Regions from separate parts of the Homo sapiens genome. Here all the other regions are linked to region 5. Evidence: fine-mapped expression QTL. A gene starts in region 5. Each other region holds a variant in brackets. All regions are shown on one strand. Distances are between the middles of the regions. Region 1 overlaps TMOD2 (tropomodulin 2). Region 2 overlaps MYO5C (myosin VC). Region 3 overlaps DMXL2 (Dmx like 2). Region 4 overlaps MYO5C (myosin VC). Region 5 holds the start of MYO5C (myosin VC).

Region 1 (5,105 bases), 530 kb before region 5:
AGGCCGAAACAGGCAGATCACGAGGTCAGGAGATCGAGACCATCCTGGCTAACACTGTGAAACCCTGTCTCTACTAAAAATACAAAAAAAATTATCCGGGCGTGGTGGCGGGCACCTGTAGTCCCAGCTACTCAGGAGGCTGAGGCAGGAGAATGGCATGAACCCGGGAGGTGGAGCTTGCAGTGAGCCGAGATTGCGCCACTGCACTCCAGCCTGGGTGTGAGTGTGAGACTCTGCCTCAAAAAAAAAAAAAAATACAAATTTTTGGCTGGGCACAGTGGCTCATACCTGTAATTCCAGCACTGTGGTAGGCCAGGCTGGGAGGATTGTTTGAAGACTGGAGTTGGAGACCAGCCTGGACAACATAGTGAGATCCTGTATCTTCAAAAAATAAAAAAAAAATAGCCCGGCATGGTGGTGCACACCTGTAGTCCTAGCTACTTAGGAGACTGATGTGGGAGAATCGCTTGAGCCCAAGAGGTCAAGGCTGCAGTGAGTTGTACTGACATACAACTGAACTCAAGCCTGGCAACAGACTGAGACCGTGTCTCAAAAAATAATAATAATTTTTACTTTATTGAAAGAGCTGTTTTCGACTTCCACATAGGTTTTTTGAAATCTTTTTTACTGAAGTGTAAATGACATACAATAAAGTGCACATATTTCAAGTGTACAGTTTGATAAGTTTTGATATATGCATGTATGTGTGAAACCATCACCACAATCAAGGTAGTAAACATATGCAACATCCCCAAAAGGTTCCCCATGCCCCTATGTCATTCCTCTCATCAGCCCCTCCCACCTCTCTCCCATGCCTAAGCAACTGTGATTTCTTTCTGTCATATAAATTAGTTTATGTGTTCTAAAATTTTAGATAAATGGAATCCTGCAGTATACATTCTTTTTGGTCTTCTTTCTCTCATTATAATTATTTTGAGGTTCATCCATGTTTTTGTGTACATCAATAGTTCATTCCCTTTTATTGCTGAGAAGTATTCCATTATGTGGATATACGACAATTTGTTTATTTTTATTTATTTATTTAGGGACAGGGTCTTATTCTGTTGCCCAGGCTGGAGTGCAGTGGTGCAATCATAGCTCACTGCATCCTCGACCTCCTGGCTGAAGCAATTCTCCCACCCCAACCTCCCGAATAACTGGGACTACAGGCATGTGCCACCATGCCCAGCTAATTTTTAAAAAAAAAAATTGTAGAAACGGGGTCTCACTGTGTTGCCCAGGCTGGTCTCAAATTCCTGGGCTCAAGAAATCCTCCTGCCTCAGCCTCCCAAAACATTGGGACTACAGGCGTGAGCCACTGCACCTGGTCACAATTTGTTTTTTATTCATTTACTATCATTCACATTGTTTTCAATTTTTGGCAATTACAAATAAATGTGCTATGAATATACATGGATTTTTAAAATCATATATCTCTCCTGTGCATACATTAAAAGGGGAAATGTAAGTGAAATGCATTCATTAGTTGATATTCTTAAAACTTCTTCACACTCAGAGTCCAACATTTTAGATCACTATTTTACTTATCCATATCTGGTTCTTTTCCACATAATAATTTCCTCTGTGCCATCGAGTGGTAATTTAAAAAATCTGTAAAAAAACAAAACTAAAACTAAAAGCCATTGAACTGGGCACTTAAACTCACTCTGTAATTATGTGGAACTGTCCTAATCTGGGCCTCTCTTCAGGAGTGCTGCTAAACATACCTGCATTGTCACCTCCCCACGATTGTCTGCTTTCTAAATTTTAAAAGAGTATTCCACAGTTGTCCCTGGGATTTCCTTCCAAGACCTTTACATCCACTCTGCTAGTTTTGAAGTTGGTGCTTTTGATATTTAGGTATATACAAGCAATGACAAGTACATTTTTACTGCTGCTGGGACAACAGTAATTGTAGGACACCATGAATTCTAAGACACATCTCAATTTCAGAATGTTAAATGTGGCAAAGTATGCATTTTAGAATCCATTAAGTAGGGTGCTTCAACCAATTCATTTGATGGATAAGGGCCTGGAAGATGCCATCCTTGTCCTGTGTGATGCAGTAAGTTAGTGGTAGCTGGCACCAGAACAAAGTGTATAGGATCCAATTGGTTTCTCTGACTTTAGTAGAATTTTTGTTTGTTTATTTACTAGAATATAGTCATTAAAGATTTAAAAAAAAAAAAGGAGGGCTGGGAGACCTCATCTCTACAAAAAAAAATTAAAAATTAGCTAGGCATCGTGGCACATGCCTGTAGTCCCGGGCTTCGTGTTGCACACTTGTAATCCCAGCTACTCCAGAGGTTGAGGTGGGAGGATCACTTGAGCCCAGGAGCTGGAGGTTGCAGTGAGCCGAGATGGTACCACTGCATTCCAGCCTGGGCAACAGAGGGAGACCCTATCTCTAAATTAATAAATAAGAAGCTGAGCTAATGGAAAAGAGCGTTGCATTGCATGTGAAAGGGGTATCGACACAGAAACCACAAACCTGAACATTGTGAGCCGTTGAATTCACAAAGGAAAGG[G/A]AACACTATTCCAATAGCCCTTAAGAGGCCCACCTGCAGCCAGTCTCGTTCCATGCCAACTCATTCTTCATTCTTATGATTTGAACTCATAAAAAAAGATTGGCGTGCTCAGATCACTCCCCTACTTTAAGAAGCTGTGGTGGCTTGCCATTCCCAACAGAATAAAGTTCAGGTCCCTTAGCAAGGCGCAGAAGGAAGGCCCTTCACAGATGTCCCACCCTCGTCTTTAGTTCTTTCCTCTCCCTTCCTCCATGAATCCCCCTCTGTAGCCATGCCGCCTGCTCTACCAGCATATCATTTACTGTCTTATCCTGTACCCCTTTGTGCTGTTCCCTTTTCCTAGAATGACACTTGCCCATTCATGTCCACCTTATGACCTCCTCCTTCAATGTTCAAACACAGCCTCTTTTTCACAGTTTCCCCTCAAACTTCCCCCACTTACTCAGTGATTATTTCCCCATGTGTTTTCAAACCTACTTTTTACATTATGTCTAATACTTACGGCATTATTGCTGTTTGTGTGAGAGTCTCACTAAGCTGTGATCTTGGGGAGAGGGGGCATTTTGATAAATATAATTTTTTTTTTGAGAGAGTCTCACTCTGTCACCCAGGCTGGAGTGCAGTGATGCCATCTCAGCACTGCAACCTCTGCCTCCCGGGTTCAAGCAATTCTCCTGCCTCAGCCTCCCGACTAGCTGGGACTACAGGCACATGCCACCACACCCAGCTAATTTTTGTATTTTTAGTAGAGATGGGGTTTCACCATATTGGTCAGGCTGGTCTCAAACTCCTGACCTCAGGTGATCCACCTGCCTTGGCCTTCCAAAGTGCTGGGATTACAGGCGTGAGCCAACGTTCCTGGCCTCCTCATGTGTTTTTAAACCTACTTTATACGTTACGTCTAATACTTATGACATTATTGCTATTTGTGTGCCTGTCTCACTAAGCTGTGATCTTCTTGGGGAAAGGTGGCATATCTTGTTTATCTTTGTATTTCTGTTTGCTAGAACTATGCCTGGCAAATAGTAGGTATATAACAAATATTTATTGGCCTGAAAGATGTGATTGGTGGTAATACCTCCTAAGGAGAAACACAGTCAGTGAAGTACATTACTGTTTCCTGAATGAGTATTATCTTTCTAAGGAAGATCTGTAGAATCCTCTGCAAGGAGAAAGGGATTGAGTAAAAATTGCATTTTGGGTGAATATTTAGAAGTGAGGTGGTATAAAAAATAAGGGTCGAGAGAAGAACGGTCTGAGGGTATAAAGAATGAATACGTAGAACAAAAAGGAAATGGGACTAGAAATAGAATGGAAAACAAAGCAAGGAGAAAAATAGAGAGAGTGATCATGTGGCCAGGATTTTAGAATCGCACTTAGTTTAATTGCAGGGGAGTTACTGGACAATGCTTTCTCACATAGACGTTCCAAACTCTCGTTCCTGAATGAATCCCATTTTGTATTCTTCACATCACTCTCTCCCTGAAAAGACACAAGTATGCTTCTTACAACTGCCTTACAATTAGTGCATTGTTCTCCCCTGTTTTTCTATGGAGAGCCAGGGAAGGCAGAGTAGTATAAGGGAAAAGCACCCACTATGCTGGGAATCAGAAGGCGGGGCTCACGCATCCCAGCTCTGTGACCTCGAGCAAGGCACTAGGCCACTTTCACCTCAGAATTGTCATCTATAAAATGGGAATGATAATATCGTCACGGGCTTCCTCACAGGATTGTTGTAAAGATCAAAATAAGTGAAATATGTGAAAACACTTTGTAAGCTGTCAGGTTGCTCTGCAAATGAAGGGAATATTACCTTTTTGTTGAATTATTCATTCAATACAGTAGGCTCCATTGGAGGCATACTTCTGTCTCCTGTTAATAAGTCCTGTTTACAGAACGGAGATTCTTTTTTATTGTGTTTCTTTTTTATTAACAGTATTCTGAAGTCTCAGGAAACTGGACCATTTAAATGTGCATGGCCCATGAGAAAGGCTTATAAGAAGCCATGGCACTCCCCTTTCAAAAAGAGCTGGAGAAATACAAGAACATTGATGAAGATGAGCTTCTTGGCAAACTCTCAGAAGAGGAACTGAAACAGTTGGAAAATGTTCTAGATGACCTAGATCCTGAGGTTAGTGACATGGAACTGAAGCAGAGTGGTTAATGATAGTATGGATAAATGGCATGGCTTGGTCCTTAAACAATGGTAGAAATCCCTTAGCTCGGAATGCACATTTTCTTTTCTTCCTCTGATTGGTTCTGGGTCACCTGTGTTTACAAATTCATAGAGAACCTCATAGCCACTACAGTGTGATACAGCAAATGTATTTCTCAAAAACCAGCCCAATGTAAATGGGGGGAAATATTTTCCGTTGGTTGAGAAAGGACTAGTCTTGTTTAGGGGAAAAAGAAGGAAAGAGGAAAAGAGAGCAAATCTTACTGAGTTTTTTCTGAGTCATATATTTCTCTGGGCACAGAAGCCCTTGAGGTAAACTTTATTAACCCCTAGACATGGAGAGGTAATTTATATAAGATTCCACACTGGTAAGTGTCAGAGATGGTATTTAAACCAGGTTT
Region 2 (5,105 bases), 31 kb before region 5:
TTTACATGGACATTGATGAGACTAATTAAACACATACCCCTCCCCCAAGAATCACTACTCATAGTATATGTCATAGAAGAAACACACATCAAATTAACTTGTGTCCATTAAATAAAGAAATCTTTCACAAAACTTACAATACATTCCCAGGAAGCCAGCACCACTGATGTCTGATTCAAGCAGGTGTAAGGAGGTAGTGGGTGTCCTTCTGCTGAAAACTACCCAGTGCCCTTAAGGTCCTATGTGGTCTGCAATCCCCCTCCCCTCTCTGGCCTCATCCACACCCTCCCTGTCACTCACCCTCTGGATACATGGACCTTCGTGCTGTTTTTCAAATGACATCTCCTGCCTGCGGGTTTCTGCACTTGCTGTTCTTCCCCCATCCACAGGCACAACCTGCTTCTTCATCCCCTGCAGGCTGCCACCCACCACCTTCTCAGAAAGTCTTTCTCTGACCACCCCACATGAAAGACACAGCACCTCTGCATGCCCCCTCTGCTTTACTTTCCTCTGTGCCAGCCGTCAGCTGCCAGAGCCCATATTTGCTTGTTGTGTCTCCTCCCTACCCTTGATCATAAGCTCCCTGAAGGGCTTCTTGCTTTGTTTTGTTCACTGCTGTTTCCCCAGATGCTATGACAGTCCGTGGCACTTAGTAGGTGCTTCATACATACTTTTTGAATAAAAGAAAAGCACACAGGAGATCCATTTCCCCTCCTCTACTGTTGCAAGGGGAGGAGGCTTTACTCTTTGAAGGCAAGCCCTGGAAACCCTTGCCGCCTGCCTCCTGTTAAACCAGTCTACCCAGGAGGCCGACTATATCTGGTGCTAAAAAGCAAAGGCAGGTCAGCTGCGAGCCAGTTCCACTATGACCCTTAGACAAAGGAAAAGTAAAACAAATGAGCATCTCACACTAACTGAGGACCTCTCGTTGCCCACCGCGGTGATCTGCACATTGCCCAGATGTAGGATGGCTGCCAGGATTTTAAAAACGTCCATCTGAAAATCCTCCTTGAAACCTAAAAACAAACATTTTCCCAGATTAGAATACTGCATCTCTTCTCTGACTAGTAAGATGGGCACCTGGATTCATTCAAGATATGCAGGTAGCATCAGTGCCAAGCTCTGGGACAGGAACGTGAAGTGGACCCCAGGGGCATCTGGGGCACTGTTCCTTCTAGTCGACCTCTGTAGACATATACCACATGTGTCTATACACAGGTTTCCCCTCTGCCATGGCTGCTAGGAAGTTCAACACAAAAATTAATATCCCAGTAATCATTTCACATTAGGTTCCTCGGAGAGTCATCTTGCCTTGATTCTGTGCTTGATTTTGAATGTTTTTCATTTTTCTTTTTGCTCACAAGCTCTCTGAATCCCTGAATTATTTTTTAGGTGGGATTGCTGGAGGGATTCCGTTTGCCCCTCCAGATTCTCTGCTCTCTGCCCCAGGGGACTTGGTATAAACCAAGGCGATGGCCTTTCATGCCCTCTGGCCTTTGGTTGGGTTTGATTCATGGGGAGCCCTAGCAGGAGAGCAGAGAGAGGAGCGGAGAAGGTTCCGAGTGCGTCCTCCCCAGCCCCCTTCCCTGCAAAGCTGCCTCCAACTGGCTGCATGGCCTGACTGACAGAAGGTCACTGCTCCTCTGGGGCTGACTTTACCCAACTCTCCTTCTAGGCTCCAGAAACACTTGGATGCCCACATGGGAAAGAGCAGTGAACAGTTCTGCTGCTGCCCCCCAGGTGCCCACTGCCCCTTGTATTAATAGCTCCCCTAGACTCCACTCACACCTCTGCAGTTGTAAATAATAAATAACCCCTCCCTCTTGTATTCTGTTGTGAGCCTGCCCCATGTTCCCCATTGGGACTTTGATTGCAGTAAGTAGAATATAAATTATGACTACATACCATATTCAGTCACCGTGAGGGGATTAGCACATTTCCTGGAGCCAAAAAGAAAGAAAACCAGCTGCTAGAAAGGACTGTGTTCAAACCCTGTAAATCACAGTGTAGACCCACACGCTGTGAGCCCGGTTTTGCCAGGTCGGGATCCCCCCAGTGTGTGTTAATGACACTGTGGTGACTTAAGCAGCTGAGAGATGCGCTCGGGCTGGCAGGCAGGCTCATTCACACCAGGCAGGCTGCCTGGTCCACCCTGGAATGGACACTGGAATGGAAGCCAATGACCCCTCACTTGAGGATACCTGGAGTTTCCATTAGCAGGTAGGTCATGTTCTTTAACAATTTCAAAACCTACAGTTTTTTGTTTTTTTTTTTTTGAGACAAGGTCTCACTCTGTTGTCCAGGCTGGAGAGCAGTGGTGTGATCATGGCTCACTGCAGCCTCGACCTCCTAGGCTCAAGTAATCCTCCCACCTCCGCCTCCTGAGTAGCTGGGACTATAAATGTGCGCCACCACGCCCAGCTAATTTTTTGTAGAGATGGGGTTTTGCCATGTTGCCCAGGCTGGTCTTGAATGCCTGGGCTCAAGTGGTCCACCCTCCTTGGCCTCCCAAAGTGCTGCGATTATAGGAATGAGCCACTGCACCTGGCCCAGAGTCTCCTCTACTACAAAGATTAAATAAAATCAGTCTCAAAAGATTTCAATCCAAGAACACAGGGAAGACTCCAGCTCCAGCTGAGTCCAGGCACTTGCTGCCTTTCCATTTGGAGGTAACTCCTCCATCCGAAGGACAGAT[G/A]TGTCCAACAGAAATATACCCCAGGCCTCCACCACAGTAATGACAGGTAAGTGATCATGAGCAGCAACTAAAAATGCCAAGTGCAGGAGCCTCCATTCTGGCACTCCTCCCTGCTTTCTGTGATCCATAACTAAACCCCTTAAACTACTCCAGGCCTTCCAGAAACACAAAAGGGAGATAACAACTCCAAAACATTAATACAAAAGAAAGAACTCAAGACCTGCGTTAAGTAATCATCCTTAGTGAGCCTGTCACACAAAAGCAATGCCAGCCTGAATCAGATTTCCAGGGGGAGCTCACTGGTCAAGTTCCTAGAGCCTGAGGTCCCAGGGACAGCCTGATTCCAAGGTGTTCGTCCCATCAGAGGGCAAGGATCATAGCAACACTCAAATGGCAGGGGTCAGTGGATGAATCACATGAGAAAGACACAGCAGAAGAGCAGAAGAAAGGGACTTTTTAATCAAAATGCCTCCCCTCGCGCTTCTCCAGGGGTAATCTCACTGCTAACTGAGGGATCTCAGCAGCAGAAATGGAGGGGAAGGCGAAGGGAACACTGCCTCAGGCACCGTCCTTGGTATTTTCCACGCATCAGCTCCTCTCATGCTCACTACAACCACCCGAAGGAATCCTAGTATTGTTCCCATCTCACAGAGGAGGAAACTAAGGCATAGGAAGGTTAGGGAACTCACCCGAGGTCACACTGGGTAAGGTATATCTAAGCAGTTTAACACCAGTGCCCACCGCAATATGAGAAAAGACCCACAGCGTTCATGAGGCCATCTAGCTTCGCCCTAGCATGTCTAAACAGAGAAGTCCCTGATGACCTCGTGCAAGGTGAAGGAAAAGTTTGAGCTGAGGTACCCTCTCTTGAAGGGAGAGTTGCAGGGAAGAGGTGCAGTGGCCCCAATCTCTTACCACCTGCCCACTTCACACAGCACAGCAGGCAGCCATCACCATTAATGCCTTGAGAGGACACGGTACTCTACCTCTCCACAAAACTCCAGAGGGCTTTGTCTAAAACTTCTAAGTCTGTGCACAGGCTAAGTGTCCAGGGCCAACCCGGCACATGCAGGGCCCTGAGAGTGAGTGCCTCTCTCGTCTCGTCCCAGTCTTGGCCCTGGGACTGAGGAACGTGATGTGGAAATCTGTAAACATAACCTAAGTTGTGTGAAACATGGGGGCAAATGGCTGCAAATTGCTGATCTCCAACAATTAGAAAAGGTTTCATGGAAGAAGAGATGGTTTTACTCAAAGTATGGTGAGGCTTTGGACAATTGGGAATGTAGAGAGCTAGCAGGCAGGGAGTAGCAGTTACTATGCACCTGCTATGTGCTTGGCCTGGTGCTGGGGACTTTTACATATGCTTCCTCACGAGTTGTCATGAAAGATAAGGTGCGTTGCCACTCACAGATCAAGACACTAAGTCTTGGCTGGACATGGTGGCTTATGCCTGTAATCCCAGCACTTTGGGAGACAGAGGCGGGCGGATCACCTGAGGTGAGGAGTTCAAGATTGGCCTGGGCAACATGGTGAAACCCCATCTCTACTAAAAATACAAAAATTAGCTGGGGGCGGTGGCATGTGCCTGTAATCCCAGCTGCTCGGGAGGCTGAGGCAGGAGAATTGCTTGAGTCCCGGAGGCAGAGGTTGCAGTGAGCCGAGACTGCACCATTGTACCCCAGCCTGGGCGACAGAGCGAGACTCCATCTCAAAAAAAGACACCAAGTCTCAGAGTGGGTAACCTTAGATTCATACCAATTAGGATTTGAATTCACATTCATTTGATCCCAAAGCCTACTCTATTTGCCCTACATTATCTTGCTGTGAGGAGGAGGACATAATAGAGGTGGGAGAGAGTAGAAGGATCAGGGAGATGAGGGTGGGCAGGGCAGGGCATATCCTTCAGCCCAGCCAGAGCTTGGCCACCTGTCCCCTCCTCACGCACCAAGCCCCCTCTCCATGGAGTACATTATACAAAGATTGAAATGACGACCATAATTATTTTCAGCAAATGTAAGTCAGTGCCGAAAGTGTTTATCTTATTATTATAAAATGTTTAAACTGCCTTTCTCCTCGAAGCAGGTTTGAGGGAACAGTCTGATGGTGATTTTGCTTAGAAAACCATCTTGTTTTCATTCTCCATTATCCAGCTGTGATCGTCTTGCCTATTCCTTGGATATGTTTAACCTGAAACTCTTAGTTTTTTACATTCAGATACAGTCAACCAGGCCACAAGAATGAAAGCACTTAGTATGAATCGGCGGGACATTTCAGCAAGAGAGATTTCAGCAAGACGTAGAAATGGCTGGCCGGGCGCGGTGGCTCATGCCTGTAATCCCAGCATTTTGGGAAGCCAAGGCGGGCAGATCACGAGGTCAGGAGATTGAGACCATCTTGGCCAACACGGTGA
Region 3 (5,105 bases), 710 kb before region 5:
AAGCTGTTACATCCAAAAAAAACTTTAAAAATATTAACCCTCACTTGTTATAATCCTATTCTTATAGACCAAATCCATCCTATTAGGAAAGAGAAAAGTATTCTCTGCTTTGAACATTGAAACTAAAAGTTTTCAACCTGAAGTCTAATAGACATAAGTCATAGATGGCCTCAGTAGGTCTCTGAACTCCGAAAAATTGTATTTAAAGTTGTGCGAATGTGTTTCTTTTCTTTGCTGTGGTACTATTACCACAATAAAGATATTGCTGCTTTCTTTAGAGCAGGGGTCCCCAATTCCTACTACCAGTCCATGGCCTGTTAGGAACTGGGCCTCACAGCAGGAGGTGAGCAGTGAGTGAGTGAGCAATACTGCCTGAGCTCCACATCCTGCCAGATCAGCGGTGGCATTAGATTCTCATAGGAACTCAAGCCCTATTGTAAACTGCACATGCTAGGGATGTAGGCTGTATGCTCTTTATGAGAATCTAATGATAAACATAATGTGCTTGAATCATCCCAAAACCATCCCTCTCCTTCACCCCTCGCTGTAGAAAAACTGTCTTCCACAAAACCGGTCCTTGGTACCAAAAAGGTTGGAGACCGCTGCTCTAGAGGGTTTAATGTCCTAATGAACAATGCAAATTTTGAGATCACTGACAACCACTGACAGATGCGTCTAAATTTAAGAGACAAAAAAAGCACTGATAAGGGAGTATTAGGCATGTTGAGAGGTCTTTTAAAATGCAGTGTGAAGAGGCATAACACACTCATTCAGTCTTCTCTAACTTTAGTTTTATATATAATTGTCTTAACTACATTATTTTCAGAAAAGAAAACTAATACTCTAATCCCACAAACACTGTTCTAATTTCTCAAATTTCCTTTATGTCTCAGATAAATTGAAGTGGAGAGTAACAAAAGGAAAACTTTTAAAAAGCTTAAACAAACATGACCACATTTCCTATGAAACTATAGCATACAATAGATTAATTACATTAGCATTTACTATAGAATAGTTGGATGTTTTAACATCCCGGAAGTTACAGGGTCAAAGTTTGAGATCATTGACAACTACTGATAAGTGTCTAAACTTCAAAGACCAAAAAAAAGAAACAAAACCTGATAAATCAAGGTGTACTAAGCATGTTGAGAGGTTTAACAAAGTACTATAATCTTACCAAGAATACTATATCAAGAGTGTTACTATTAAACTCCCACCGCTCCCTGGGAGTGAGTTTTGATCAATGTAAATATGTCTACTTTTCTACTGAAGAAGGTACATTTTATTAAGAGTTAGAAAAATAATTACAAGAAGGAGGTACCATTTATTAAAAACCTACTGGGTGACAAGTATTATACTATTTTCATTCTATATTCCTAATCTTTCTTTCAAGACTGCCACAATCCTAGAAGTTGGTTATTAATCCCACCTTAATATTTTTGAAAAAGGAATTTCACAGGATTTAATCAAATTCCTATGTCACAAGGTAAATACATGACTATAATTCAAACTCAGCCCTCTTTACTGTTTTTTCCACTTTACTAATGACATTTTTCTATCGTTTCGTTTTCTGTTGCTCAAATTTTTTGCTCTTTATTAATTGCATTTAAATTCTTCACTTCTGCTGTGATCTTTGCTCATAAACAAAAAAACTAACAGGAAGGCAGGGTTGTCTGGGCTTTGATGGTTACTTGGCTGTACCAAGAGATCTTATAGAAAGTCTTAAGAGGCCAGTGTTGACATATGAAAAATCTTACAACCAAGAGGACAAAACACAGATTAACAAAGATTTCCCAGGAAAACACCCATTCCTTCTCTCCATTTTAGTCACCTAATTAAAACCCTAGCTCTTTATGATACTCTCAGAATTATTAATTTCTAAAAAGGACAAATAGGTTTCCTTAATACGTTCCTGATTAAGCAAGAAATTTCACAAGTCACATATACATTGAAATCATGTACAAGGTAAATAAGGCACATAAAATGTTTAATATTAATGTTTTCAGTAACAAGATTTTCTTTTTCATAGAGGAAATCACACATATATTAAATTTTAAAATTAAATAAGAAAATGAAGTCACCTTCTCATCCTTTTCACCCTTCTTACCCCTCCCCTCCTCATTCCCAGGAAGCAATTACTTAATAATTACCTATGAACCCTTCCTGAAATGTTCAATATATAAAAGTATATCTTTTATATATCTTCTTTTAACATAAATGGGATCATGCTATACACAATTCTGCCACTTATTTTCCACTTAGTTAACAATGTATCTTGAAGAACTTTCTACATCAGCACAGAGGAAATTACTTCATTCTTCTTTTTTTTTTTTTT[CT/C]TTTTTTTTTTTTTTTTATTATACTCTAAGTTTTAGGGTACATGTGCACATTGTGCAGGTTAGTTACATATGTATACATGTGCCATGCTGGTGCGCTGCACCCACTAATGTGTCATCTAGCATTAGGTATATCTCCCAATGCTATCCCTCCCCCCTCCCCCGACCCCACCACAGTCCCCAGAGTGTGATATTCCCCTTCCTGTGTCCATGTGATCTCATTGTTCAATTCCCACCTATGAGTGAGAATATGCGGTGTTTGGTTTTTTGTTCTTGCGATAGTTTACTGAGAATGTTGGTTTCCAATTTCATCCATGTCCCTACAAAGGATATGAACTCATCATTTTTTATGGCTGCATAGTATTCCATGGTGTATATGTGCCACATTTTCTTAATCCAGTCTATCATTGTTGGACATTTGGGTTGGTTCCAAGTCTTTGCTATTGTGAATAGTGCCGCGATAAACATACGTGTGCATGTGTCTTTATAGCAGCATGATTTATAGTCCTTTGGGTATATACCCAGTAATGGGATGGCTGGGTCAAATGGTATTTCTAGTTCTAGATCCCTGAGGAATCGCCACACTGACTTCCACAATGGTTGAACTAGTTTACAGTCCCACCAACAGTGTAAAAGTGTTCCTATTTCTCCACATCCTCTCCAGCACCTGTTGTTTCCTGACTTTTTAATGATTGCCATTCTAACTGGTGTGAGATGATATCTCATAGTGGTTTTGATTTGCATTTCTCTGATGGCCAGTGATGATGAGCATTTCTTCATGTGTTTTTTGGCTGCATAAATGTCTTCTTTTGAGAAGTGTCTGTTCATGTCCTTCGCCCACTTTTTGATGGGGTTGTTTGTTTTTTTCTTGTAAATTTGTTTGAGTTCATTGTAGATTCTGGATATTAGCCCTTTGTCAGATGAGTAGGTTGCGAAAATTTTCTCCCACGTTGTAGGTTGCCTGTTCACTCTGATGGTAGTTTCTTTTGCTGTGCAGAAGCTCTTTAGTTTAATTAGATCCCATTTGTCAATTTTGGCTTTTGTTGCCATTGCTTTTGGTGTTTTGGACATGAAGTCCTTGCCCATACCTATGTCCTGAATGGTAATGCCTAGGTTTTCTTCTAGGGTTTTTATGGTTTTAGGTCTAACGTTTAAATCTTTAATCCATCTTGAATTGATTTTTGTATAAGGTGTAAGGAAGGGATCCAGTTTCAGCTTTCTACATATGGCTAGCCAGTTTTCCCAGCACCATTTATTAAATAGGGAATCCTTTCCCCATTGCTTGTTTTTCTCAGGTTTGTCAAAGATCAGATAGTTGTAGATATGCGGCATTATTTCTGAGGGCTCTGTTCTGTTCCATTGATCTATATCTCTGTTTTGGTACCAGTACCATGCTGTTTTGGTTACTGTAGCCTTGTAGTATAGTTTGAAGTCAGGTAGTGTGATGCCTCCAGCTTTGTTCTTTTGGCTTAGGATTGACTTGGCAATGCGGGCTCTTTTTTGGTTCCATATGAACTTTAAAGTAGTTTTTTCCAATTCTGTGAAGAAAGTCATTGGTAGCTTGATGGGGATGGCATTGAATCTGTAAATTACCTTGGGCAGTATGGCCATTTTCACGATATTGATTCTTCCTACCCATGAGCATGGAATGTTCTTCCATTTGTTTGTGTCCTCTTTTATTTCCTTGAGCAGTGGTTTGTAGTTCTCCTTGAAGAGGTCCTTCACATCCCTTGTAAGTTGGATTCCTAGGTATTTTATTCTCTTTGAAGCAATTGTGAATGGGAGTTCACCCATGATTTGGCTCTCTGTTTGTCTGTTGTTGGTGTATAAGAATGCTTGTGATTTTTGTACATTGATTTTGTATCCTGAGACTTTGCTGAAGTTGCTTATCAGCTTAAGGAGATTTTGGGCTGAGACGATGGGGTTTTCTAGATAAACAATCATGTCGTCTGCAAACAGGGACAATTTGACTTCCTCTTTTCCTAATTGAATACCCTTTATTTCCTTCTCCTGCCTGATTGCCCTGGCCAGAACTTCCAACACTATGTTGAATAGGAGCGGTGAGAGAGGGCATCCCTGTCATGTGCCAGTTTTCAAAGGGAATGCTTCCAGTTTTTGCCCATTCAGTATGATATTGGCTGTGGGTTTGTCATAGATAGCTCTTATTATTTTGAAATACGTCCCATCAATACCTAATTTATTGAGAGTTTTTAGCATGAAGGGTTGTTGAATTTTGTCAAAGGCTTTTTCTGCATCTATTGAGATAATCATGTGGTTTTTGTCTTTGGCTCTGTTTATATTCATTCTTCTTAATAGCTGCACAGTATTAGTATTTCATGTTGTGGCTTTGCCATAATTAATTTTGGTTGTTTCCAGTCTTTTACTATTTCAAACAATGCTTCGATGAACATGTATGTATAGATGATATATGCGTATGTGTCCAAGAATCCCTACAGGATAAATTCTAAGATATAATATGCTGGATCAGTGATTAAAATTAATTGCAACTGCAAATTGTCTTCCAAAAAGATTATAGCCCCAAGCTGTATAAAAGTACCTATTTCTCCACTTACTCACTAACCCCAATCATTATCAAATGTTTTAATCTTTCCATTCCAACAAAACCTGACATCTCCCTGTTCTAATTTGTATTTTTATTAGAAGATAAGCATCTTTTCACATATTTATCAGCCATTTATATTTCTTTCTCTGTAAACTGACTATTCATATTATTGGTCCATTTGTCTTTCTGCAGTTTTTCACACCTACAAA
Region 4 (5,105 bases), 53 kb before region 5:
AAGAAAGAAAATTATTTTTTTGCCGTATGAAACTCATCTCATCACCCTTTTCTGAGTCTAAAGCTGCTGCCTCTAAAAGAGCCATCTCATTGTGCTTTGTATTAGTCAGTGCTGGAGAAATCTTGAATAGCTTATGTAGAAAACTTGTTCAATTTTATATTACTTTGAATTCGTTTCTTTGGAGTTGGACACCCTGGACATCCCATCTGGCTGTGAGAGCTCTCTACAGTCTGTGGGGTGGCAGTGGGCTAATCTTTTTTTTTTTTTTTTTTTTTTTTTTTGAGACGGAGTCTCACTCTGTCACCCAGGCTGGAGTGCAGTGGTGCAATCTTGGCTCACTGCAAGCTCCGCCTCCCGGGTTCATGCCATTCTCCTGCCTCAGCCTCCCGAGCAGCTGGGACTACAGGTGCCCGTCACCACACCCGGCTAATTTTTTGTATTTTTAGTAGAGACAGGGTTTCACTGTGTTAGCCAGGATGGTCTCGATCTCCTGACCTCATGATCCACTCACCTCGGCCTCCCACAGTGCTGGGATTACAGGTGTGAGCCACCGTGCCCAGCCAGTGTGCTGATCTTTTAAAATTTCTTTCCCCAACCCAGTCTCTGCTTTAGGTGAGGTCTGTTAGGTGTATATCCTGTCTGTTAGGTGCACATTATTGGCTTAAAATGTACTTTCCTTTGGTGTGGTCTCTTTGGGGCCAACTGGGAGAAAGAGAAACCAACAGTGCAACTGGTGTGTGTGTGTGTGTGTGTGTGAGAGAGAGAGACAGGGTCTCCCTCTGTCACCCACGCAGGCTGGAGTGTACTGGCATGATCATAGCTCACTGCAGCCTCGAACTCCTGGGCTCAAGGAACCCTCCCATTTCAGCTCCCTGAGTAGTTGGGACTACAGGCATGAGCCACAGCACCTGGAAGAATCTCCTTTCTGGCTTGGCTGACACTTTGTACAAAGTGAGGTTGCCCATAGTGAAGTCTTTCCCTGGGCCCTGTTTTGTTCTCAGTAAGGAAGGCCCGTACACCCTCCCTTCCTCTAGACAGAGGTTGGCCTCACCTTTCGATACCTCCTCCTTGCCAGGAATCCTCGGCTGTAGGCCTGCATTGTGATGGTGGCCATGCGAATCAACTGATACAGGCTGCGAACAAGATACCCGCGGCAGTGCTTCTGAATGATTATGGCTGCCCAAGCTTCTTTTAAGGCCACTGCAGTAATAGCTTTCCTTGGTTAACAAGGATGAAGAGTGAGTCTGTTACCCACAGAGCATCAACTTCCATAACAGAGCTGCAAGCTTGGCTAGCATGTGTTTATAAGGAAGGTTCAAATATTTTACACCTCTCCACATTAAACTCTGTGGGCAGTTTATTCTAATGCCTACTTGAGGCCAGTCCCCAGTTCCCTGTCCTTGAGGAACCACATGGGAACTTTCACTCTTTTCATTCAGGCCAGTCGATTCACCTCCACTCAGGTACCCACAGAGACGATGATGAGACTGTGCACTGGTGCTGCACTTGCTCAATCACGTACTATTTACATATCCCCCACGGCTGCTTTCATGACACAGCAGCAGGAGAGACTGCAAGCCCCCAATGCCTTAAATAGTTATCATCTCGTCCTTTACAGAAAAAGTTTGCTGCCCCTGTCTAAATGACTAGAGGTGAAGATAATGTCCTTACCTTTAGAGTTTACAACCTCATGTACAGAAAGACTAACAAATGGCCAAGAAAGAGGAAAAATAAAATACCACCTAACTAGATCTGTAAGTGAGAGGGGAAAAAAACAGTTATTCTGCTTGGGGAAAGTGGGTATGTGAGCCAGCCCCCAATGCAGTAGGATGTCTGTACACAGTGAAGGCTGGAAAAGGCTTTCAGGATAAGGGACCAGCATGAGTAAAGGCATGGAGGCTCTACAGTGCCTGAAATACTCAGAAAAGGAGTTTGTTTGGAATCACTAGAATAAGATGGATGAAGAAAATTAGACGTCAATGAGGTTAGAAAAATAGATGTGCACCATTTGTTATTTTAAAAACATATTTGTTGAACACCTTCTATGACAGCCACCATGCTAGGTCTGGGTATGAATGACCAGACAAGTGTGGCCCCTGCCCTCATGGAGCTTCCATTCTTATGAATGCACCCAGGCTATGGAGGGCTTTGAATATCACGTCAGAGACTGAATGCTATTCTGTAGGAAACACGGGCCTTAAAGGCAGGTGCAGGGCAGTGTCTCAATCAGGCTCTGATGTAGGAAGATGGGAAGGAGGTGGGAGGTGGAGCACGGTGCCATCAGAGTGCAAGGCAGGTGATGCCGTGAGCCTAAACTGGGGGCAGGAGTGGGATGAAATGAATGGGATAGGCAGGAGGCCAGCAGGGCAGGATGATCAGGCTCTGGTGAGCCCCAAATGGGAAGGGAGCGTGGCCTTGGCGGGTAAGATAACTGTGATTTCCTTCCCCAAAGACTGCTGTTATCAACTGGGCACAGAAGCACAGGAGGGCAAGCCAGCCCAGCTGTGTGATCCATGCCACACCACGCTGGTCATGCAGAGAAGGCCAGATGCTGCCACAGTTCAGCCTCCAGCTCAGGAAGAAGTCAGGCTTGCAGACGCAGCCTGACCCTAAACGCCGGCCTTCTCAAGCATCCTCACAGCATCCCAAAGAAGGGGCAGAGCAGGCAGAGAGAAACACAAAGTTTATCTAGGGGCACCCTGGTCTTGTGCTTTCCAGCAGGTACACCAAAGCCCTGGAAGTCCCGGAATGACCGTGGTCCTTCAGTGGGCTGGCAGGGTTGTGTGGACTCTCAGGACCCCTCGAGGCAGGTAGGATCAGCGCAGCTGGTGGACCACCCTCCCCTCAGCCCTTGGCTTGGCTGGGGCTGCTGTGGTCTTCCTGCTTAGGGGTTCTGTGATTGGTTTGCTGCCAGGCCTTGCAGGGACCCCCTCTGCCATGGTGCACCCCACCTGTTGCTGGCAGGCTGGTCGCTGGCTATTCTTGACATCTGTCCTTTGGATCTTCACTAGGGCCTTGCTGATCTTATGCATTTTCAGTTCCCATAGGAAAGGGGCCCCGGGCCTCTCCCTGAGCTTCCGGAACCCTGACTCTCCTTAGTAACACTCTCACCAGC[G/A]CTTCCTCCCTGCAGGGCCCTGGGTGTCGGCTCACCACACAGACACCAGGCAGAGCCAGCACTACCTGCCCCTGAGAGACGGACCTTTCTTGCCCTAATGCTCACGACCACAAAGGGGACCCATGCACGTCTGCACCCTGGGTCACAGGAGAAAGGTCCCTTGTCCTTGATGAGTCCTCCCCGCCGGAGATGATCAGCACAGAAAGCCCCACAGTTCCACATGTGTTCCTTGATTCCAACATACCTCACAGTTTGCTGACCCCGGAAGTACTGCTGGATTATCAGGGCGGCTCGTCTCTCTCGGAGGAATTTTTTCCTCTGGAGCCAGCCACGCATGTGCTTTTGTACCATAACACAACTCTGCCTCAGTTTATCCAATCGAAGTTTCTCTAAATAAGCCACTTGTCCTGCTCTGAAGAAAATTTTGGTTTTACCAAACTGGTACTGATTAGAATCCTGGAAGAGAAAAATGATATAGTTAGAATTAAAATCTGTCAGATTTTCTATAATACAGTATTTGGAAAAGAGCTTTAGGGATTCAAAGGTGCCAGAAATATTGTGATTTTGACATTTAAGGCAGAAAACTCACATCATGATCTAGAAATGTATACTTTGAGTTGTTTGTTTAAAATTACCCTGGAGGAAGAAATGGGACTTAGGCTGAGGAATCCATTTGTGGGTGAGAAGGGGAGTGAGTGTCATTTGCGGCGATTCTCAGTTGGGCTGCCAGAGAACTTCAGCCACTCTCTCGTGGTCTCCACATTGGAGTAGAAGAAACTGGGGAAGTTTGGTTTTCTGTCTCCATTTTGGGTTCTCTTCACCATCCCCTTTGCTGGACCTTATAACTCCCCATCTCTTTCCCATCACAACTCATCGCTGCAGCAATGATGTCAATCCACACAAGGCACCATGCCTGGAGCCCATGTGGCTTGGTGACAACCCCAGTTGACCATATCCTATAAGCCTGGTCCACAGAGGACTGGGTTAGATCGTGGGAGAGCTAAACAGGATACGAGGACACTGGGGAGGCCGGAGTTCGGATGTGGGTCCCTAACGGGGACTCATGGCCCACTGAGCACTCTGCTATGGTCTCTTCAGCAGACAAATGCTCAGGGCACATTTTCTTTCCTTTCAGGTGTTCATGATTACAGTCCTGAGCATTCAAGACAAAGATGAAACAGCATGTTTGGGAGATGTGCTTCCAGGAAGGAGACCATGATCCCAGGAGGTGGGGAAACTGACCTGGATGAGTCTGTGTAAAACCACCTTGCACACCTCCTTTTTATCGCTGAAGGAAAGCTCTTGCTTGGTCATGAGAATGCCGTAGCGACTGTAGAACTCGATGTATGTCCACCTGGAAAATCAAAGGGGATCAAAGCCAGGAGTGTCAGAGGAAGCACATTGTGTCTGGGGACTCCGCTGCCTTACCTGCCACTGTTGTCATAGGGCGGGGGTGGTGCAATCTGTCCTGAGGATAAAGGCACTGATCTTTGATACCCTGCCTGCCTGGGACACTACCAAGACCACCCTGAGCACTCCTGTCTGCCCCAGCAATTGTGCTCTTTCTCCCACTCAGCGTCTTCCCTAGTACACGGGGGAGGCGGTGGGGCCACCACCAGCAGCCGAGATGCAGTGATGGGGTGAGAAGGTGGTGTTGACCTCCGACCCCTACAAAGCCTATTTCTCAACCTCTTCTGGACTTCCACAGGGCAGTGGGAAAATCTTGGGGGCACTTTACAGAAGCCAAAAGTATGTGACAAAAATCATGGCAGCCATGTCCTTGGTTCTCAGCATAGCTCTGATGTCAGGTACTTTTCCCTCCAAGACAAGGACGGACAACATACCTGGAAGGGTAGCTCTGTGCACTAATGCGAATCGTTTCTAAAACGCCGCAGGCTCGCAGCTGCTGAACAATTCTTTTGGAGTCAAATCTTTAAAAAGACAATGATATTATGTGTTGAGGCATCGTAATTGCTCAACATGCCCATAA
Region 5 (5,105 bases):
CAAATCTAACAGTCCTAACACACCACCCTTGATTCTGCCAGCCCCCACTCAAAACCCACACTGGGGAATAAAGCCCTGACCTCGCTCTCTGGCTGCCATGGCCCTCCCCTTCACACCTCCAGAACAGACAAAATGGGGGCTAACTGCCCACCAGGAAGGGAGGTGGCAGCCTAGGAACACAGGTGTCTACGTGGACACAAGGTCAGTGGGAATGGCCATCAGGCTGCGTCAGTCTCTGGGATTCTCAGATTCTCATTCCCTCCAAGCTTGTACCTTTAAACTCCTTCCTATCAGTTTTCTTACATTGTGCCTGGTACTTACTAGACATTTAATAAATATCTGAGGTTTGAGGCACCTAAAAATAGGGGTGCTTGCACCTGTGTGTTTCTGCTTCTGGAAATACTGTCACCTCAAATAGGTTCAGCAGCAGCATTTTTCTCTGTCCTCCAAAGTATCGTCGAAGACTAGTCCAAGACTTTTCTTTCACTTCCAGTAAACTGAAGGCTGAAGAAGCGCTGTTGGCTGTCTGAGGGCTCACAGTCTCACTGGTGAAAATATTCTAGAACAAAACTAGGGCAATTCAAACACTGTCCATTTAGAACTCCAGTTAATGGAGATGCAATAGAGGAGAAACTACAGTTCGGTTGCTTTGTGTCCGGACTGTTACTAAGTAATCAAAGTAGAAGAAAAACGTTTGCTTAAACCATTGAAACATGATTTTTTAAATAACTATCTTTTCTATCTACAGCAAAAGCATCTTTTAAAGTAGAAAGCTAGAGCATGTGTCCGGGGAAATGGATGGATTCTAGTTCCACTCGTCTGAATACTGAGGTCTCTAGATTTCCCCAACTGGTGTATAGGAGGATCAGGCTTTATGGCTATTCAAATGGATTTTTTTTTTCAAAAGTGCTAACACTGTCACACTCTTTATCCAAATAATTACCCAAGCCCATCTCAGAGGGTTTGGGACATATGTGGGAACGCTGCCCTTCCGAGGTAAGAGGTGGAGCCCCAGCCAGCAGAAAGGAAGCTTCTGAGGAATGCTCTAGTGTTTCCCAGAGTCAGGGTATATGAAAGGCGCTTTAGAAACTGTGGTGTTTGTACTGTTGCTAACAGTACAGATGTTAGGCAAAGAGCCTACGACTGCACCTCGTGGCCCCTGGGCTCCCCAAGCGCTTGGTGCCACTGCAGTGCCCTCAAGCCTGTGACCCAGGCTGCTTCAGCTTCTGATGAGCCTACATGCACGTTCACGCACTTTGAAGACACAGAATTCTAGAAAGCAGCCCGAACACTGCGGCCATAAGCTTCTATGCCAGCTCGTTCAAGGGGGTCCCAGGAGGGGCCAGGAGACTGGCCGGCGTCTCAGCTTCCTACGTCCGCATGGGCAACTCTGATTCCACCCGTGGTGTGGTAGGAAGGGACCGAGGCGCTCCAGTCCCGGGAGATGGGGACGCACGCGCGACCCCTGGGCACTGGGGATTCTAGGCCCCGAGGCCGGAGCGGCGGAGGGGGCGGCCCCTCCCACAGGGTCTTCCCACCCACAGGGCACCCAGGCGCAGCGGAGCCAGGAGGGGGCTTACCCGCGGGCAGGGACGGAGCACGCCGGGGCCCTGGAGGGGCGACGCTCGCTCGTGTCCCCGGTCCCCGTGGCCCCTCCGCGGCGCCTCCGCGGCCCCCAGCGCGCGCCCGCCCGCCCTGCCGTGTCAGGTGCGCAGGTGTGGCAGGTGTGGCCCGGGCGCCAGGTCGAGTCAGCGTTAGCAGGGCCGGCTCCCCCACAGCGCTCCCAGGAGCCCAGCGGACCCTCCTACCTGCGTGTACAGCTCGGCCACCGCCATGGGCAGGAGGGGCCGGGGCCAGGCCGGGGCTGCCGAACGTGCGAGGCTCGGGGGCTGGGCCTGCGCCGCAGAGGCCGGGCGCAGGAGAGACCGCCGCGGAAATCACCGCCGGGCCATCTTGCCCAAAGTTTTCCAACGGCCTCCTGTTCCCGTTCCCGAGTTGGCGGCGAGGGGAGGGGGCAGCGGCGGGATTGGTCCCTCCAAGCTTGGCCCGGCTAGTCGGCGCTGCCATTGGCCGGGGCCGGGCGGCTGCACCTGGCGGGAGCGCGGGTGGAGAAGGTTGGGGCCCGGGGCGCGCTGCCAGGCAGGAACAGATGCATCCGGAGGCTGCCCGGCCCGAGTGTTAGCTCCTCAAAGAGCAGAGGATACGACCATTTAAATGGAAGACCCAAGGGAATCAACGTACTGAACACAAAGAAATGTGTTAAGAGTCCAGCAAGGTCATCGTATTCAAAATCAAATACAAAAATAAGTAATGGTCCTTTATATGAGCATTGTCTATGCAATACAAGATATTTACAATATTAGTGAAAATATAAAGTATCCAGAGATTACACTCGCAAAAATGCCCTTGGCCTTTGTGGAGAAAATGTTTAAAATTCTCTTAAAGAGCTTAAAAGAAGGCCCAGGTAAACGGGAGACATGCCATTTTCCTGGCTGGGAATATTTAATATGGTCAAGGTGTCACTTCTACCCAAATCAATATATATGCCTAATATATTGGCGTCAGAATCCTACAGAACTTTTGGAGAATTGTACAATGATTCTATATTTCATATAGAATAAAAGCCCTGTATAACTAAGACAATTCTCAAAGAGGAGAGATTTGTCCTGCCATATATTTAGGGACATAACAAAGCAGTAGTCATTAAAACAGTGTGACACTTGCGTGAGAACGGATACGTGAGTAATGGAACATGCTGGAGCCCCCCAGCAGGGCCCTACATTATACGGTAGCCTTAAGGACCAGATAGGGAAATAAAATAATATTTATTAGATGGGCCCGTTATATGGAAAAACAATAAAAGCAGATCCGTGGCAAACACTGCATCCAAAAATAAGCTCCAGATGGATTCACGATTAAAACTTAAAACCGGGAAATTATTAGGAATAAAAGAGGGATAATATCTTTAAAATGTTGGGTTATAGTAGTTTCCATATAGAAGAATTGTTAATCGGTTAAAGAAAAGAAATCCAATTTTTAAAACTGACAAAAATTAATAGGCAATTCACAGATGGGGACACTTAAATGGCTTGTTAGCATACAAGGAGATGTCAACTTTAGCAGTAATCAGATAAATACAAATGAAAACAACAATGAGATATTGCTTTTTACCCATCATATTGGCAAAAACATTTAGGTTAGACAATCTCAGATACTGCCTAGGATGTGAGAAAATAAAAACTTGGCCGGGCGCGGTGGCTCACGCCTGTAATCCCAGCACTTTGGGAGGCCGAGGCGGGCGGATCACGAGGTCAGGAGATCGAGACCATCCTGGCTAACACGGTGAAACCCCGTCTCTACTAAAAATACAAAAAATTAGCCGGGCGAGGTGGCGGGCGCCTGTAGTCCCAGCTACTCGGGAGGCTGAGGCAGGAGAATGGCGTGAACCCCAGGGGGCGGAGCCTGCAGTGAGCCGAGATTGCGCCACTGCACTCCAGCCTGGGCGACAGAGCGAGACTCCGTCTCAAAAAAAAAAAAAAAATAAATAAAAAAAATAAAAACTTTTTTTGCTTACATAACTGGTGGGAATATACTGCCATCCTGGAGAGCAATTTGAGAATAGTTATGAAAATAAATGTAGGCAGAAAAATTCTCACAGTCACCCAAAGAGACAGTTAAGTAGATGTTCATCACAACATAGTTATTTATCAAAGAGTTGGAAGCATCTAAATATCAATAGGGGAATAAATAAAATAGTATATACATGGCAGACAGCAGAGAAAAATAAAAAAAGAAATAGTATATACATGTAAAACTCTACAGCTGTTAGTAGGAATAGACATGATCTACTTGACTCAGAAATAAAAAACAATGTTGAATAGATGTCTAGCCCAAGTCTTTAATATTTAAAAACTCACAAAAACTGCAATACTGAATATTGTTCATGGGTACAAGTATGTGTGAATAGAGGTAAGGAGGATAAATTACAAAGTCATTCATTAAATATGCAAGAGTGGATACCTATGAGGGAGAGAAATGGAATCGGAGATTTCAAAAAGGGGATCAAAAAATATAAAGAGAGGCCTGGCATGGATCAATAATGATAAATGCCACAAAGAGAGGATCATGGTAAATTTAATTTTGCATTTATTTATATACAAAATTATTTATATTATTGCCCAAATAATTCTATTTTGTATAAAGAAAAAGAAAATCTATAAGGTGAGTAGTGACAGCTGCCTGATTGCTCAGAGTTAAAAAGAGAATCTAGCTGCCTTTTTTATTTAAAGAAAATTTTTATTGAAGAATAAAATTATATACAGAAAAGTGTGCAAATAATAAGTGTACAGCTCAATATATTCTTATTCATGGAACACATCAACACACCAAAGTAACCACCGCCCAGATCCAGACGTAGAACATTACCGATATCCCAAAACTTTCTCTGTTTCTTCAAATCATTTTCTCTCAAAGATAACCACTGTTCTGATTTGTATCACCATAGATGCGTTTTACCTGTTTTGGATGTTTTTAATAAATGGAATCACATGTGTAACTCTTGCATTTGGCTTTTTACATGGTATTTATTCATCTTGTTGCATGTAGCTGCGGTTTGAGGTCTTTCATTCCTGTCTAGTAGTATTCCATTGTATAAATATTCTACAATTTATTCATTCTCCTATTGATAAATATTTCGGTTGCTTCAGTTTACACCCACTATGAATAATGCTGCTATGAACATTTTATATGTGTCTTTTGATGCACAAATATATGTATTTTTGTTGGGCACATAAACAGAGCAGAATTGCTGGATCACAGGTATGTAATGCTCAACTTTAACGGATAATGCTAAAGAGATTTGTAAAAAATTGTTATATCAATGTATACTTCTACCAGCAGTGTGTGAGACTTTTAGTTGCTTAATATCCTCACCACTTGATGTGGTCAGTTTAAAAAATAGCCTTTCTGATGAGTGTGTTATGATGTCTCACTGTGGGTCCAAGTTGCATTTATTTCTATGATGACTATTGACCACTTTGGTATTCTCTTTTGTGAAATGTCTGTTCAAGTCCACTTGAACTGCTATTTAAACAGATTTTCAACCA

Evidence for each region.
Region 1: its variant is fine-mapped to the expression of MYO5C in monocytes after LPS (Fairfax 2014, PIP 0.95).
Region 2: its variant is fine-mapped to the expression of MYO5C in sun-exposed skin (GTEx, PIP above 0.99).
Region 3: its variant is fine-mapped to the expression of MYO5C in monocytes after R848 (Quach 2016, PIP 0.95).
Region 4: its variant is fine-mapped to the expression of MYO5C in whole blood (TOPMed, PIP above 0.99).

What each region holds. Positions count from the first base shown.
Region 1 is chr15:51,761,909-51,767,013 of GRCh38, forward strand. TMOD2 (tropomodulin 2) reads left to right here. Exons shown (of 10, transcript NM_014548.4): 2 at 4,465-4,659. The coding sequence starts at 4,534. Among named protein-coding and RNA genes, the nearest start is that of TMOD2, 13 kb to the left of the region's middle. The variant G/A (reference allele first, on the strand shown) is at 2,529.
Region 2 is chr15:52,263,281-52,268,385 of GRCh38, forward strand. MYO5C (myosin VC) reads right to left here. Exons shown (of 41, transcript NM_018728.4): 9 at 910-1,016. Among named protein-coding and RNA genes, the nearest start is that of MIR1266, 11 kb to the right of the region's middle. The variant G/A (reference allele first, on the strand shown) is at 2,696.
Region 3 is chr15:51,580,786-51,585,890 of GRCh38, forward strand. All of the region lies in intron 1 of DMXL2 (Dmx like 2), which reads right to left. Among named protein-coding and RNA genes, the nearest start is that of DMXL2, 39 kb to the right of the region's middle. The variant CT/C (reference allele first, on the strand shown) is at 2,336.
Region 4 is chr15:52,240,997-52,246,101 of GRCh38, forward strand. It overlaps MYO5C (myosin VC), which reads right to left. Exons shown (of 41, transcript NM_018728.4): 17 at 4,960-5,046; 18 at 4,358-4,469; 19 at 3,360-3,571; 20 at 1,052-1,217. Among named protein-coding and RNA genes, the nearest start is that of MIR1266, 34 kb to the right of the region's middle. The variant G/A (reference allele first, on the strand shown) is at 3,116.
Region 5 is chr15:52,293,802-52,298,906 of GRCh38, forward strand. It overlaps MYO5C (myosin VC), which reads right to left and starts at 2,003. Exons shown (of 41, transcript NM_018728.4): 1 at 1,809-2,003. The coding sequence starts at 1,835. LOC105370819 (a long non-coding RNA gene) reads left to right here and starts at 1,083. Exons shown (of 4, transcript XR_932250.3): 1 at 1,083-1,410. RefSeq lists an enhancer at 56-225 and a silencer at 1,667-1,826.